Regions from separate parts of the Homo sapiens genome. Here region 2 is reported to be linked to region 1. Evidence: microRNA targets listed by miRTarBase, many of them from high-throughput screens and not tested one by one. Region 1 holds a microRNA gene; the other region holds the end of a gene's coding sequence.

Evidence for each region. Region 1 holds the annotated microRNA hsa-miR-5680 (GAGAAAUGCUGGACUAAUCUGC, at 1,235-1,256, shown strand). A microRNA usually pairs through its seed, bases 2 to 8, with sites in the 3' UTR of a target mRNA and lowers its output. Matches are read on the target gene's strand: a 7mer-m8 pairs with bases 2 to 8, a 7mer-A1 pairs with bases 2 to 7 and ends in A, and an 8mer does both.
Region 2: the mRNA of MLLT10 is a reported target of hsa-miR-5680. Seed matches in the 3' UTR shown: 7mer-m8 at 1,812-1,818 and 7mer-A1 at 1,893-1,899.

What each region holds. Positions count from the first base shown.
Region 1 is chr8:102,124,249-102,127,400 of GRCh38, forward strand. It overlaps MIR5680 (microRNA 5680), which reads left to right and starts at 1,184; the gene lies at 1,184-1,267. It also overlaps a transcript of NCALD not described here. RefSeq lists a silencer at 29-88.
Region 2 is chr10:21,741,478-21,744,477 of GRCh38, forward strand. It overlaps MLLT10 (MLLT10 histone lysine methyltransferase DOT1L cofactor), which reads left to right. Exons shown (of 23, transcript NM_001195626.3): 23 at 462-2,153. The coding sequence ends at 506. All of the region lies in intron 1 of LOC107984214 (a long non-coding RNA gene), which reads right to left. Among named protein-coding and RNA genes, the nearest start is that of MLLT10, 210 kb to the left of the region's middle.

The sequences.
Region 1 (3,152 bases):
TCCCAGCGTCTGTGTCGCTTCGGGCGAGGCGGCGGCAGCAGCGGCAGCGCCTTCCCTCCGCCCGCCTCCCCCTGGACAGCACCGTCGCCAGCCGCGCCCCCCTCCCCAGCCTGGCTCGCCGCCTCCCTCCTCGCGGCCGCAGACCCCCTCTCCACTGCAGCCCCGCAGGCAGCCTCTCCGGCGTGGGCTTCACCGCGGGGTTGCAGGGGGGCCAAGATGAGGCGCGGGATTTGCAGGTGCAGTGGACGCCCCCCCCCTCCCCCGCTTGCCCTGGTGCAGCCTCCGGGCGTGTCCCCACGGTGCCCCATAGTCCTAGCTCACCGCCCAGGCCTCTAGCCAGCCTGCACTGCTACTTTCCAAGGGGTGCCATCTGCTTGCCTCCTCGGGTCCTGGGAGGTCAGATTCAGCCTAGAGCACCTCCTTCCAAGCTTCGATTTGAGGGGGGGTCTGGGGTCCCTGCTCTACCGCAGTGAAGTTCAAGGGAGCCTTGGAAGGCAGTTGAAAAGCTTCTCAGGTGGTGTCCTCTGGACTCTTCATGCCCACAAGGTGGGAGGGGGGCTGCTTTTGTCTAACTAGTGCTTTCTCTACCCAAAGCCTTCTGTAAACTGTCTAGGAAAAGCTTAACAAAAAATCCGGAGGAAGACATCTAAGGGGCCCCTCTCCTGCCCCTCCTTCCTCCCCTCAAATTTTTCATCTCGTGTGGAGATAATGAGAAGCAAAATGTCTTGTCAATTCATTCACCCAATATTTATCGAGTACCTGCTGGCTGCCAGCACCTGTTTCCTGTCTTGCTGTGTCGTCCACTCATGGCCTCTCAAAAAGCCACTGTAACTAACTCCTTGTGCTTGTCAACCCTGGTGACATTTCCAGAACCCGCAGAAGGTCTCAAGAGCAACTCAAATTCATCAATTTAAAAAGTTGCTGCTTAAAAATAACAAGGCTGCAAAGGCACCGTGACCTGGCCTTCCTCGTTGTAATGTTTGCAAAATCTTTTAACATGACTGGTTATAGAAAGGACAGTTACATTGAGGTCCAGACAGCTGCCAACTCTGATTTAAACACCAAGTAAAAGTTTCATCTAATCAAAAGCACCCTTTCCTAGCTCTACCGGTTGCCTTCAATTGTAAAACAAAAATTATCTAGGAGGCTGTTAAACCATCATCAAATACTAAAACCTTTGCTTGCATTGGGTTAGCAGGTTAGCCCAGCATTTCCCTTCCTGGACACACAGGAGGAGAAATGCTGGACTAATCTGCTAATCCAATGCAAGCAAAAATTTGCATTGGAAAGTTGGATTTTTTGGTTTTTGGTTTTTTCTTTTTTCTTAATACTAGGCCCGACCCCGAGAGAATCTAATCTAATTGTTAAAAAAAAAAAAAATCCGGGGTTCAGGGGTGTCCAGCTTTGTATGGGTATTTTTTTCACATGGGCCCCAGGAGACTCTGATGTGTGGCCAGGGTTGGAAACCACCATAGGATTAGCCAATCATCAAGCAGGGCCTAAGGGAACGTCCCGTTGATACAGCAAAAGGTCTGCACAGGTGTTGCAAACTCAAATGTCCCTGAAGGATAAAAGCAGGTGACAAAGAAGTAACTTAAGTGGTTATACAGGGACAAACTGAGAAGGGCACAATGGCCCTGAAAAAGGCAGCCTCATTTTTCTACGTGGGAAAAGAGGGTCCAGTGTGGCCATCAAGTCGGGGTATTTTATTTTATTTTGGTTTGGTTCCCCCTGCCCCCAAGAGAAGCCAGAAGTTCACGTTTAATGTGAACTCTTCTAATTTAAAAATATTAGTAACTTATTTTTTAAATATTTTAAAAAATTTTAAATATTTTTTAAATATTTCTCTATAAGCCAAGAAAATAAGAATTTGTAGGCCACAAGTGGTCCCCTGGTCATCGGTTCGTCACCTGTAGTCTGGACAGATTCTGTGCATAGGAAGCAGTTAGGAAGGTGCTTGGGGTGGGATTCCTCAGAGAGAGAGGTGATTTTAAAGTCCACTTTATCTACTTTTCTTTATTGATGTGATTTTTCTTTAATGATCTCTACTGTTAAAAAAAAAACAGTTTTGCTGAGGTATAATTCACACATCATACTATTCACTCAAAATATGCAATTTAATATTTTTTGCATATGCAGTTAGTTGTACAAACTATTACCATAGCCAATTTTAGAACTGATTTTCATCACCCCATAAAGAAATCCCACACCTATTAGCACTCATTCCCTTCTTTCCCCAACCCCCAACTTCCAGTGACCACTTATCTATTTTCTCTCTATGTAGATTTGCCAATTCTGGACATTTTATATAAATGGAATCATACAATTTGAGGACTTTGTGACTGGCTTCTTTCACTCAGCTTAATGTTATCAAGGCTGTCTCATGTTGTAGCATGCATCAGTACTTTGTTCCTCTTTATGAACAAACGATGTCATTGTATAGCTCTATCACATTTTGATTATCCATTTATCAGTTGACAGACATTTAGGTTGTTTCACTTTTTTACTATTGTGGATAATGCTACTATGAACATTTCTGTTCGAGTTTTTGTGTGGATGTACATTTTCATTTTTCTTGGGTATATATATAAATTGCCAGATCACATGGTAACTCCACGTTGAACATTTTGAGAAATTGCCATACCTTTTCCCAAACCAGCTGCACCATTCTACATTCCCACCAGCACTATATGAAGGTTCCAGATTTCTTCCATATCCTCGCCAACACTTGTTATTTGCCACTGAAAAAATCATACCATCCTAGTGGAGGTACAATGGTATCTCTTTTTTTAAATTTTTCTTTAAGTTCTGGGATACATGTGCAGAATGTGCAGGTTTGTTACATAGGTATACATGTGCCATGGTGGTTTGCTGCACCCATCAACCCATCATCTAGGTTTTAAGCCCCACATGCATTAGGTATTTGTCCTAATGCTCTCCATCCCCTTGCTCCCCAACCCCCACAACCGACAGGCCCTGGTGTGTGTTGTTCCCTCCCTGTGTCCGTGTGTTCCATGTGTTCTCATAGAGTGGTATCTTATAACATTTGATTTCCATTTTCCTAATGGCTCATGGTGTTGGTCATCTTCATGTGTGTATTGGCCATAACTTCTTCAGAGAAATGTCTATTCAGATCCTTTGCCCATTTTAAA
Region 2 (3,000 bases), not on the chromosome of region 1:
TACAGTGACATTTGTGATTTCAGTCTTTAATAATAGGCTGTAACTCCATTTTTTTTATAGATTAGTAAAAGGAAACGCAAAGAAAGCCCAAGGACAAATAGCAAATGTGGAATCACAGCCGATGACTTTCTTAGCCCATAAAAATTTCATTCTCTACAGTACCATGTTACTTCTGTGGAAAAGTTGATTTTGGAAGATGAATTCTGCATTCATTCTTTACAAGTTCTGTCCCTCAGATGGGCCCACCTCTTTGGTCTTTTTATACTGTTGAATTTAATGTTTTTAAAGTATTTACTAGTAAATTCATGTCTATATATTACGTTGCAAGTAGCCTTGCCAACTTGCAAGAAAAAAGGGAGTAACTTTCTATACCACATTTTATCTCAGTCACAGTTTCAAATTCGGAGAATATTATCAAAAGTTGATTTAGCTAACGCATCTGCTCTTTTGTTTACCTGCAGAGACTTAGTGATAAAACTGGGCCTGTAGCTCAAGAGAAAAGTTGACACCTGAGAAACATCTAGAAATTGCCTATCCTGCTGTTCTAGCACTTCATCTGGCTGCCTTTGCAGTCCTTTTACTACAGCTATGAAGAAACGCAACAAGAAACTCAATGCACAACAAAGGATTAATTGCTGCAAGGACATTCTTGTAAGGCTTTGATTAGTTTTCTTGTTGCTTTGTTGCACTGAAATGGAATTCCCATGCCCCTACCCCTTACCCCAGTTTTTTGAACATGGAAAGAAAATTTAATAACTTTTTAAAGTGACATAATTTACATGCAATATGTTTATCAACTCAAGAATTTAATATAGTTGGTACACAACTAGTTTTGTTTATAAATTGGAGATGCAAATAGCAAAACTAAATACTTGCTCCATTTACAAACTACTTGATTTTATTGTACAAGTTGAAATATGCTCTTTTGTTTGGGTTACAGTATGCTTGCTCTAAGTCAAATTCCAAGGAACTAATTTCTTCTCCTGGAGTTGCATTGATTCAGTATTACAAATATATAGCACATCACCTGGGACTTGGCAATCTTTGTTAAAAAAAAATTTCCTTTCTAATGGGATTTGGCCAATTTTGGTAATGAAGTTAGGATGGTAATGTCTGCATCTGCTAAAGGTAATTTTCTTTTGAGAATTGCTTTCTTTAGTGTTAAGACCTACTCATATTTTGAAGAAATCTTGAGTTAAGTGAGTTCTGAGGCTGCTGGGGGAACCAGATCAATTCAAAGCTAAATACTTCTTTCAGAAAGGGGCCACTGTGGAAAGTGCTGGTGGGGTTTGCCCTTGATCAAGTGCCTCCATTGTGCTGCAAGGGCTGTAGACAGCAGGGTGGGACAGTCAGTCCTCCGAGCAGCAGGAATCATCCCGTCACCTGCAGCCTTCCCATGCTTCCGCCTTTATTCAGAACTTTCTGTGCCACTGTAGATAGCTCAGGCAAAACTATTACCTGGGTATTTATCCACTAATGAGTCACAAGAAAAGGAGTGGATTTGGTAAGAATAGAGATTTGTTTTATTTAAACCACTTCCCATTACTGACCATTAAAAGCTCACCACTAGAGTTCCTGAAACAGGTGAAACCTGTATGACAGCCCTTCCACTTTGGGGAGCCACGCTTTTGATGTGACAGTACCGCAGAGTGATTCCCCCACTGAGGATGTCATCATCAAACTCTTCTTTGGTGTGTGAATTATTAGTGGAAAAGACCCAGCTGTAATTAGACCTCCACTGTGTACTTAGCTGGAAGAACATGTTAATTCTGCAATATGTTTCTTGGTTAAACATTGCACAGTTCTTACCTCATTTCTGTAAATAAAGTTTTGTGAATCTGTTTTGTATTGTGACAAATTCATAAGATAACATTGATATTTTGATTTGTAATATTTCTAATTGGTAGATTTAATTGAAAAGTAAAATTAATTTATTTTTATATGTTCAGGGGAATTTTAAAGTCAAATCTTTTGTAGATAATTTAAAAAATCAGTGTGGTTTATTTTACTTATTTAACCCACTGGTTGTTATTCTGTAACAGTTTGTATAAATGGTAAATTTTGAATGTGTTGTTATTTTACCTAGATGTAAAATTCCACATGTATTAAAATGTACAAAATGTTTTGTTAATAAAATTTAATAATGTTTATAACTCCGTGCCATTCTCATTTGGAGAGGATGGAGGGGGTGCACCCATGTTGCTTCCTCAGGGAGTCTTGGCCTGTGTTTTGTGTTTGGAGCACTGGTATATTGCCCCGGAGTTAATGGAAACTCTCATGAGCAAATGCTATACGATGTGCAAAGCATTCTGTAAAGCACTGTGCGGTACAAACCCACCTCGGGCTCAGAGATCTTGGATCATCCTCAGATGAGACGGAGAGAGAAGAGGGAAACAGCCTTGGTGGAGATAAAAGGAAAACAAAGTCCTTTTAGATGAGATAATTAGAGCCCGTTGATAAAGCAGTACTCACACTTGGTAGAGAGAGATTCTTCTTCTTTATACAGTTAGCTTTAACTAGAGGCATATCCATGAAAGAGAAGCCCAATCTACTTAGTGGTCTTGGGGTCTTGGTAAGCATCAGAATCACCTGTGGTGCTTTTCAAAAATATAAATGCTCAGACTTTTTATCCCAGACTTAATTGAATCAGAACATACTGATCTGTGTCAAGTGCTCCTGGTAATTAAGAGGCACATGAACAAGAAAAACTGGTCCTAGGCTATAAACTTTATTAAGGAGTGAGTTTTGGGTTCCTGGAGAGATTTTTTTTATGCACATGAAAAATAATTACGACTCTAGAAAGTCGTCTCTTCTCCCAAGGCGAAGGATTACCTTCCCTCTAGAATGACAGGTGACTCATCCATCAACTCCTGCGAGTTTAATTCCTCAACATGTGTCCTTTGCCTTAGCTGCATGTTTGTAAGTGTCCGCTTCTGTAGCTCTCTGGCTTCCTGGAGGCTCCGGGACGTCGACCTCGTCATCCTGGGTTGCTGCCCTGCA